Linked DNA regions of Homo sapiens: region 1 is linked to region 2. The links come from fine-mapping of genetic effects on gene expression. A gene starts in region 2. The other region holds a variant in brackets. All regions are shown on one strand. Distances are between the middles of the regions. Region 1 overlaps OPA1 (OPA1 mitochondrial dynamin like GTPase). Region 2 holds the start of OPA1 (OPA1 mitochondrial dynamin like GTPase).

Evidence for each region. PIP is the estimated chance that this variant, and not a neighbour inherited with it, causes the effect.
Region 1: its variant is the best candidate, but not a certain one, in a credible set for the expression of OPA1 in whole blood (INTERVAL, PIP 0.86).

Annotation. Positions count from the first base shown.
Region 1 is chr3:193,651,892-193,657,278 of GRCh38, forward strand. It overlaps OPA1 (OPA1 mitochondrial dynamin like GTPase), which reads left to right. Exons shown (of 31, transcript NM_130837.3): 22 at 2,971-3,136; 23 at 5,189-5,341. The region is part of intron 4 of LOC102724808 (a long non-coding RNA gene); the gene reads right to left. Among named protein-coding and RNA genes, the nearest start is that of OPA1-AS1, 27 kb to the left of the region's middle. The variant G/A (reference allele first, on the strand shown) is at 2,347.
Region 2 is chr3:193,590,252-193,595,638 of GRCh38, forward strand. It overlaps OPA1 (OPA1 mitochondrial dynamin like GTPase), which reads left to right and starts at 2,957. Exons shown (of 31, transcript NM_130837.3): 1 at 2,957-3,158. The coding sequence starts at 3,127. It also overlaps a transcript of ATP13A4 not described here. RefSeq lists enhancers at 2,619-3,270, 2,666-2,735, 2,786-2,835, 3,271-3,922, 3,436-3,515 and a silencer at 3,056-3,205.

The sequences.
Region 1 (5,387 bases), 62 kb after region 2:
GTCCTCTACTTTAAAATAAAAAAAAATCCATTTTAAAAAGAATTTAATTAAAGTGGAATGTAGGTAAAGTTTCTGTAGATAAAGAAGGCAATAAAACTATTACCTTTATTATATTTTGCTAATTATATTTTGTGTATTAGTAGAAGTTATCCCTGGTTGATGGCAAAACCTGGAATAGAGAAGTCACCTATAATAACACAGAATATAGTCCAGGCACGGTGGCTCATGCCTGTAATCCCAGCACTTTGGGAGGCCCCTATGGTCGGATCACTTAAGCTCAGGAATTCAAGACCAACCTGGGCAACATGGTGAAAACCCTGTCTCTAATAAATATACAAAAATTAGCCAGGCATGGTGGTGCACGCTTGTAATCCCATCTACTTGGGTGGCTGAAGTGGGAGAATCGCTTGAACCCAGGAAGCGGAGGTTGCTGTGAGCCGAGACTGTGCCACTGCACTTCAGCCTGGGTGACAGAGTGAGACCCTGTCTGAAAACAAACAAACAAAAAAAAAAAACCATAGAATATAGGCTGGGAAAATTGTTAGATGATAGCAGCAAGCAATAAGGTAGCAGATGACATAACTAGATGAAGTGGCTTCACAGTGTAATGGTTTTTATATGAACATTGAGAACTGATGGTTCAGAAGAGAGACTGGGGTGAGGAGGACTTAACTTCTACTTTCTAACTCTGAAGGCCATTTAACTGCTGAATAGCTTCATCTCAGCAGAATTTGAGGACAGAGGACAATCACTTTCCTTAAGGAAAGGTTTGGAGGTAAGAATAGGGAAAGAGAATGAGAGTGTAAAATGGTTTGTCATGGAACCGGGTATTACAGGAGCACAACAGAAATTGTTGGGATGGAGGGGAGCAGTGGGAGTCTGAGACAGAGGACAGCAGCTTGGCGATGAAAGGCAGGAGAGGCTGGGCAAGGAGAAGTGATAACAGCTGCATCTGTGGATGTCAAAGCAGCAACCTCCCTTGAGAAAGTTGCCTTTAGCTTCTCGGGATTTGGTAATCAGGATTTTAAAAAGGGTGTCAGGGATATGGATTCCTGGCCCACAGACTCCAGGGAAAAATAACAGACTATGTCTCTTCTGAAGCAGGATGAGAAAAAAGCCCTGGAGGTCAGAGGCTGGATCCTGGTCTTCAGTTCAACTTTCAGTAATCTTCTTGAGATTGTGTATAAAGTGGTATCTGAAGAGGAGGCCCTGACAGGCTGCTTTTCTTCATCTTGCTCCTTAAATTCTCCCACTCTCTGTCATTAACTCAGTGACTAAATTGTCTTTGTCCTTTTGGGCCCCAGTCATATATCCTCCTCAGACTCTGATTTCTTTACTGGTTGTAACTGGAAAGTGACCTGAAAGTTAGCAGTGGGAAACCAGGATCTGTGTTGATTGATTCAGTAGACTTAATTTTACACAAAATGTTTAGTAAATAGTCTTGGAGGGTAGGAGATGTTGACTCTCCTCACCAGAGAAGTTCAGCTGGGCTTTTGGACAGCAGGATATTTCTGCTACCCTGAGATTTGTGGCTATATCCTAAAGGGTTGAGATTATTCTTAAGAAGGATCCCCTGATAAGCAGAGTTTTTTTTTTATATTGTAGTATTCTAAGTTTATTACCCAAATAAATATTTCCTTGAGATTTCAAATTGAAATAGTTGTATTTTTTTATTAGTGACCCATGTTCTTTTAAGATGTCTTTCAAGGCAGAATTTTCAACATGATTATGCATCTTTTACATTGTTACCTTAATCATGAATTATTGAAAAATTTTATCTACAGCATTCTATAACATCTCTGTGCTGTGATCTGATAAGTTGTCATATTTATACCAAGAAATTTTCAGTCTCAGACTCTCCCGTAAGCACATGAAGTATATGTTAATACTAGGCAGATAAGTGTGCATGAAAAGATGCTCAGAATTATTAGTCATTAGAGAAATACAACGTAAAACCACAATGACCACTATAAACTTACTAAAATGGCTACAATTTTAAATGACAGACTATACCAAGTGTTGGCAAGGATGTAGAGGATCTAGAACTCTCATTCTCTGCTAGTGGAAATGTAAACTGAGGCAAACATTTCAAAAAAAAATTAAACATGTAATTACCATATGATCCAAACATTCCACTCTTAGGTATTTACCTAAGAGGAATGAAAGCATGTGTTCATAAGAAAGACTTGTACGTGAATTCTCATAGCAGCTTTATTTGTAGTAGCCAAAAGCTGGAAACAGCCTAAGGGTCTATCAACACAAGAATGGATAAACACATTCATGCAACATAATACTACACAGAAATAAAAAGAAGTGAAATATTGCTAGATGCGGTGTCTCACACTT[G/A]TAATCCCAACACTTTGGGAGGCCAAGGCAAGAGGATTGCTTGAGCCCAGGAGTTCAAGACCAGCCTCAGCAACATAGTGAGACCCCATCTCTACAAAATTTTAAAAAATTAGCCAGGCATAATGGCGTCCACCTGTAGTCCCACCTACTCGGGAGGATAAGGTGGGAGGATGGCTTGAGCCCAGGAGGTTGAGGCTCCAGTGAGCCATGAATGTGCCACTGTACTCCATCCAGCCTGGGCAACTAAGCAAGACCCTGTCTCAAAAAAAAAAAAAGTGAAATATTAATACATACAACAGCATGATGAACCTCAAAATAATTATGCTGGAGTGGAAGAACAAAGACAAAAAAAGAGTATATGCCACATGATTGCATTTATATAAATTTCTAGAAAATACAAAGTAATCACAGTGACAGAAAGCAGTTCCAGTGGTTACAACTTTTGAGGATGATGGATGCGTTCATTATCTTGACTGGTGCGATTTACAGGTATATACACATGTGAAAACTTATCAAAATTTTAAATATGTACAGTTTATTATAAGTTAATGATACTTCAGTCAAGCTGTTTTTAAAAACAATATTATATTTAGATTTGGTGCTTTTGATACTTTTTTATTTCAGGGAGGAAATCCTTCAACAATCTTTGTGGGAAAGAGTATCAACTCATGTGATTGAAAACATCTACCTTCCAGCTGCGCAGACCATGAATTCAGGAACTTTTAACACCACAGTGGATATCAAGCTTAAACAGTGGACTGATAAACAACTTCCTAATAAAGCAGTAGAGGTTAGGATATAATTTAATTAAATGGGTAAGAAGCATTATCTGAAGGGAGTAGGAGCTGTGAATTTTAGATTTTATTCCCATCACAGCCTCTATCTTTCTTTTAGGTCTTTATATCTCATTTATTCTTTATTCCTCATCTCTGTTTTGGGACTAACCTTAATGTTGCTACCAGTTACTACGGTTATAAAAATTTACTAATTGGTATGATGTTGGCCTGAGGGTATTGGTACTTCTTCCAAAGACAATATTTAACAAGCAAATTTTGCTTGAATATGAAATATTTGCTTGAGTATTTGCTTGAATGTGAAATATTTTGAACATTTTCTGTGGATTCTGTGGATTATAGAGATTCCATAAAGAAAATACTTAATAGATGAAGCATTTCATCTGAGCTCAGTTATACTTAAATTATCATTTTCTTAGGATCCTGACAGAAGATTAAACTAGGAATTATTAAAAAACAAAACAAAACAAAACAAAAAACTACCTTAAAGAATCTATTTCTGCTACCATGTATCTTGGCTTTATCACTTAATAGCTGTGTGATCCTTTGCCTAGTTGCTTAACTTTCCTATGTGTTTTTTCATCTATAAAATGGTGACAATAATGTTGCCTACCTCACAGCATTGTTATAAGGATTAAGTAAGTAATTATATGTAAAATACTTAGACAATGCCCAGCCCATGGTAACTGCTCAGGGAATGGACCTGCTGTTATTATGGTCCTCATCATCTGAATTGATCCATCATGTACATCACCCCATAAACAGCGATTGTTCAAGCTAAGAGTCAGTGTGTCCTGTGCTTGTGTGTGAGGTTGCTCACAAAATTGAAGTCAATGTTAAAAGTAATTTTGTTTTTCATACCTATCTTAAAGGCAGTGTCAGTTTCTAATTATTCGGATGTGATTTCACCCCTTTCCTATCTTGCTCCAGTGTTAACTTCCTTATCTCTGTTCTCAATTTCTTCAAGCCCCTTTCTAAGAACTCCAGCAGCCTCCCTGCCTAAGTTGCACGTTGCTGAGCCCTGGCAGTTCTTGACACATTTACCCCTGAAGAAGTTAGAGAGCTGCTGCTACCCCTTCAGTAGCTCTCATTACTGGCACTAACATTTTTTCTGCGCCCTGTCCCATGATAGGATATTTTCACATCCTAAGGTTCAAGCAGTGGAAGTGGTTATGAAAGCATCAATTTTTCTTTCCACTGCTGCTTTCTGTCCCTCAGCACTAGGTGTCATGGAAAGAATGTAGATCTGGTGAGAAGGTCAGGAAACATGGATCTTAATACTCACCCCACCACTCACTCCGTATTTTTGGACAGTCACTTTCTTTTTTAAAATGAGAGAGGGCTAAAATCCAGCATTAAAAAGCCCACATAGTTATAAGTAGATTTTGTTCTTCATTATTTTTGACACTGTGCTCTTCCTTTCACCGTTCAGATCATTAGGAGTTAGCTATAATACAAAGCTGAATACTCTTCGGCTATGTTTTAAAGTGTTGGTGCATTGCTTCATATCTTTGCTTAAAGACAAAGCTATGAAGATGACTGAATCATTAAGACATTTAAAACCTTTTGCAGTGTGAAAGAAGCAGTCAGACTCATGTCTTAGAGGTTGAAATAAATAAATGAACTAACTTGGGTGGCAGGCTTAGAATACATACCTTATCTTGAAGAGACAGCCCTGTTCAGCTACAGTAGGTGGTGTCATGTAGGAATATGGGTATATCCTTCTCAGTTAGTCCAAGAGAAGCCGTAAATGCAGACTTTTATATGAAATCTCTCAATTTTTAAATATTAGCATGCAATTTTAAAAATGAGAACCGCTATACATGTCTAGGAAAACATACCAGGAAGCCATATCTGTCCCCAGCAACCCGTGTGAGACCTCTACATCATGGTTTATATTTGCCTTTTTGTTAATGTAGTTTCACATATATTTTCTGATAAGCTGATTTATTTATCACATCTGTTTGGCTTGAGCTCGTGTTATTTTTCATGTTAACCATTGAAGTATGTAGTAATAATATGGCTTTTTTTCTTTCAAATAATTATAGGTTGCTTGGGAGACCCTACAAGAAGAATTTTCCCGCTTTATGACAGAACCGAAAGGGAAAGAGCATGATGACATATTTGATAAACTTAAAGAGGCTGTTAAGGAAGAAAGTATTAAACGACACAAGTGGAATGACTTTGCGGAGGACAGCTTGGTATGTTGTTTGTATACTGGGGTATCAGCCTCATATTTTTATATAA
Region 2 (5,387 bases):
GCTGCTGATTGGTTGGGGATGAAATAATAGGAAAACATTCCTTGTGTGCTGAGTCCACCTCTGGGCGGGGCCACAGGATCACTTGAGTCATGAGTCATAAGTCTCGATGGGGTGAGTCTGAAATATACCGCAAAAAAGCAGTCTTAGATTCTATAGTAATGATGTTATCTATAGGAGCAATTGGGGAAGTCATAAGATTTGTGAGTTCTGGCCACATTGATTCCTGAGCAGTAAGGGACTATAGAAACCATACCTACGTCTTAGCACAGTTCAGGCCCCTCTCATGATCCTGTTCTCTTGGCCTTTCTTACAAAGGTGGTTTTTGGTTCCTGAGCAACGAGGGAGTTAGCTTTAGGAAGGGACTATTATAATCCTTTCTTTCAAGTTAAACTATAAACTACATTCCTCCCCAAAGTTCATTTGGCTTAAGTCCAGGAATGAGCAAGGACAGCTTGGAGGTCAGAAGCAAGATGGAGTCAACTATGTCAGGTTCCTCTTGTCATAATTTTGCCAAGGCAGTTTCAATATAAGTAGTGGTTGTTTTTCCTCTTAATTTTTACTAAGAAAAGTAGAAGCACAAGCTTCATGATAAACAGTAATTGATGTGTTCAATTTCAGAAAGATGAAGGAGTGTGAACTACCGGAGAGGACATGAGTGCCTGAAGGATAAAACTACTACTTGGCTCCTGGTTCCGAGACATTTTTTGTATATAAGAATTGAAGGTTGATGTTGTTAGGCATCCTGATATTTTTATGTGATTTTTTAAAATGTGAAATTTGTTGATTTTTATTTGGCAACAAATGTAGCATTTTTTTGCTTGTTTGTTTTTGAGACGGAGTCTCGATCTGTCGCTCAGGCTGGAGTGCAGTGGCACAATCTCAGCTCACTGCAACCTCTGCCTCCTGGGTTCAAGCAATTTTTCTGCCTCAGCCTCCGAGTAGCTGGCTAATTTTTTTATTTTTAGTAGAGACAGGGTTTCACCATATTGGCCAGGCTGGTCTCAAACTCCTGACCTCGTGATCTGCCTTCCTCGGCCTCCCAAAGTGCTGGGATTACAGGCATAAGCCGCCATGCCCAGCCCAAATGTAGTGTTATTTTTAAAACACTGCATAGGCCAACACTGTCTAAACCAAACAAAACAGGTCTGTGGGCTGAATTTGGTCCAATGGTTGCAGTTTATTATACAACAGTTTGCCCTTTTTTCATGGCAACACTATGTATCTATGGGAGATCATTCCTTATCAGGACATACAGACCTAAAGCATAGGTTTTCATGGCTAGTACGGATGTAATTTATGTGTCTAGTTCCTATACATGGACATTTATACTGATTCCAATCTTTTCCCATTTCATACAGTGCAGAAATAAACATCATCATGCATACATCTTTGCATACATGGGAATGATTCCACAGGATAAATGCCTAGAAGTAGAACTGCAAAACAAGGGCTTCATAAAACATATGATAACCATATATAAATGGTGATGGTGGTTAGTTTCTCCTTTTTTTATGGTTAAAGTCTTTTATCCCTAATTTTTCTTTTTTGTTGTTGTTGTTAAAGTCTCTTGGTTTCTCTTATTTTATTTTCTAAAATAACAAGGAAGTAACGATTACAAAGACACTTTTTGTACAACCCTACAATCCCAGGAAGATCTACAGTTTGCACAGGTTGGTACAGCAAATTGCTCTCTGGACCTGCCATTGAAACAGTCACCACAATAAATAAAGAAAATTCTAAGAGTCCTGCATTTGGGAAGTTTACTATCAATGGCTAGGTCTACTCTTGGTGGTATTGTGAGTGCATGGGTCCAGACTTATGATTCTGACAATTAAGGGAAAAGGAATTGTCTTTATGCTCTGTGTATTTGTGTATGTGTGTGGCATGGGTGGGGGGCGGGTAGTGGGGAGGAGGTGAAAGGTCCCTGAAGTAAAGAGGATGCACAGGACCCTTTTATTTTAGTCCCTAAAAATTGGCTTCATAACCGTTCACAGGCCACATCCCTTTTACGGGCCCTGGTTTCCTTACAAAACATAAAAGGTTTGTGTTGGAAGGGGAAAGGAGTATTTAAAGTGATGGAGGAGAGGAGCTCAAGATGGCTGAGATCTGGGCCTGTCCAACATTGAGAAATTTGGGAGGGGAGCCATCAAAGAAGCCTGGGAGCAGCAGTTCCAGGGAAAAAGGAGAATGTGATGGCCAGAGAGCCAAAAGAAAAAGTAGTTGAAGGAGTGCTCAGCACTAGGCATCTGAACTGAATGCTGTGGCAGGCTCACTGGCCACAAACAATAGGGAGCTGGTGGAGGCCTTGACGAGGACCATTTCAACAAACTGGTGGGCTTAAAATCCGGAAGAAACAGTTGAACAAATCATTTTGACGCCTTTTATAAACCACACAAGCTTATTCCAAACCCGTTACTGGCCTAACTGATTTAAGTCCCTTTCCCATCTGATCCTCAGAGATTCTAAGGGACTTAGCCTATCCATGACTCTTCGTCCTGCTTCTCACCTCCCATGATTGCCCTAACGATGTGAAAGTGCTTTCAAACAAAGATGCCCAAGAAAGAAGGTAGGCAAATGTGCAAGCATTAGTTTGTAGTACGCTATTACTGTATTTCACCTTGCACTCTCTAGTTTCCTTCGTGCTCCCTCAATATCCAACTCTTAATAAATTCATGGCTCCCGGTGAGCATTCATCAATTCTCATTCCACGCCTTTAGCCCTTCCCGTTCCCGCCCAACTCTCGCTCCCTCCCCTGGCCAAATCTCTAACCTGCAAGGCTAATTCCGAATTCCAAATCGGAAGCAAGAGGGCGGGGCCCCGTGAGAGGCGATGGATTGCTCCAGTCCGTTCCCGACGCACTGTGCGCATGCGCTGGTCCTCCGCGGACCGTTCGTGCTGCCCGCCTAGAAAGGGTGAAGTGGTTGTTTCCGTGACGGACTGAGTACGGGTGCCTGTCAGGCTCTTGCGGAAGTCCATGCGCCATTGGGAGGGCCTCGGCCGCGGCTCTGTGCCCTTGCTGCTGAGGGCCACTTCCTGGGTCATTCCTGGACCGGGAGCCGGGCTGGGGCTCACACGGGGGCTCCCGCGTGGCCGTCTCGGCGCCTGCGTGACCTCCCCGCCGGCGGGATGTGGCGACTACGTCGGGCCGCTGTGGCCTGGTAAGTGCAGGCTCTAATCTGGCCCCGTTAATTCTGGGGCCTCTTGAGAGTGGGGCTGTCTTATCTCTATCTCCAAAAATGTGCAGGTGACTCTCAGGCCAGGCCGACGGCAGTTGGAGAATTCCCAGATGTTCTTGAGGACCCAGAATGACAGGAGCCCTGGCTGGGCTTACGTTCGGAGCCGGCTTCAATACTGGCCCTTTTCTCTGGCCCTACCCAACCCGAAAATTCTGGACGCCTCTCAATCTTGGCCCGTCTCTATTGTCCTTTTGTCTCTGCCCTTTACACCCTTGTGTCTTCAGTGTTCTGTCTGTCTCTGGTTGCCTCTTTTGCCTTTTTTCTGTCCTCTCCCTGCCAGGTTTGGCTCTGTCCATGAGTCACCTCTCTCCACATTTCTCCTAACTCTCGGTGTCTTCTTTTTCTTCCATTTCCACGCCATGTGTACATTGCATCTTCAGGTACCTGGGCTCTTCTATCGGGGAAAGGGGCGTCCGTCTCTTTCCCTAGCCCGCTGATAGAAGTCAGAACTAGAGCAATGACGCACACGGTGTCAGAGACGGTGATTCGAGATGCCCTTTCAATAGCAGCTTTTTTCTGTGTTTCGGGAGGGAGACTTACTTTTTGATGCAAGGTCGTGAACGTGGCACCACCTTTCTAATCTCAATCATTGTTGCCCTGGGGTGGTTTAATTCTAAATAGAAAATCATAGAAATCTTTTCATTTCTGTGCGTTACTATATGCATTGTAATGAGATTAAATTGGATTTTATAGGAAATTTTGTTCTAGTATCATTAGATACCTTCAAGCTTAGCTCATTGTTGCAGGCATTTGATAGGAAGTAAGATGCATCAAGCAAAATTGGAAAAACGTGGTTTTCCTGAATTAACTTCTAAGCAGTTGTTTTGAATTTTTTCCAGACCTTTTTAAGTGGTATAGATAATTTATCGTGTTTATAAGGAATGGAATGCATTCGTTAGTTTGTTTTTGTTTTGTTTTGAGACGGAGTCTTGCTCTGTCGTCCAGGCTGGAGTGCAGTAGCGCTATCTCGGCTCACTGCAACCTCCGCCTCCCAGGTTCAAGCAATTCTCCTGTCTCCGCCTCCGGAGTAGCTGGAATTACAGGCACGCGCCAGCACGCCTAGCTAATTTTTGTATTTTTAGTAGAGAGGGGGTTTCACCATTTTGGCCAGGCTGGTCTCGAACTCCTGACCTCATGTGATCCACCCTCCTCGACTTCCCAAAGTGCTGGGATTACAACCGTGAGCCACCGCGCCCGGCCCAATTTGTTTTATATAGGTTAACTGGAGTCCAAAATACAGAACTAGATGAGATAACAATAGTTAACAGTGTTAGTCAGTTAGAATTATTGCATAGGTATTTTTAATCTCATGGAATTTTAGTCTTTGAGTAAGTTCACAGCCCTTGGTATTAAAGTAAGTTATTTACAACCCTTGCATTTCTACTTCTCAATATTTAGTGAGGAAACATATCTGATTTTCTTTAAATAAAAAGAGAAAAGACTGCAGAAGATAGCATTCTCTGTTGGAGCAATTAAGATGTATAAGAAGAACTACAAAGACGGAGTTTTAAAACAAACTGATTTATAAGTGGTATTTATTTAATTGGCTGTCATTGGGCTAAATTATTTCTAAAGTTACCATGGATGCCATTGAGTCATGGCTTAAAAATGTCTCCTGGTGATGGCACAGTTTAGCTACCTAAAGAAGTAGAGATGTGGGAAGCCAGAAGCCCCAAGCTCTGCAGTTTTTCTTTTGCTATAGTTCCTTTGCATGTTGTGAAAGAATACAGTTAAATTCCTGCTCCCTAACAGATGAGAGCATAAGCATTTCTTTGGGCATACATATGTAAATACATGCTCATGGACATGTGAAAAGATCAATACTAACATTTGGGTGCAATAAATAATTGTGTAAAATTATTTTTAAAAGAATTACATATTAGGAAATGATATATTGATTAAAAGTGATAGTCAATGAACAAGAGAGTAGATTTCTGGGGGAAACCTATTTTGCATCATACTTGATTTTTAGTTTTGACTGAATATTGAAGTCTATATTCAAAATTCTTTTCCTTTAGAACTGTAAAGGCATTGCTGCATTTTCTTCTAATGTAATTGTTTATTGCTGCTGAGAATTCTTATGACAATCTGATTTTTTCATCTTCATGATTATCTTGTTTTTCCCTTCATGGAATCTGTTAGGGTCTTGAC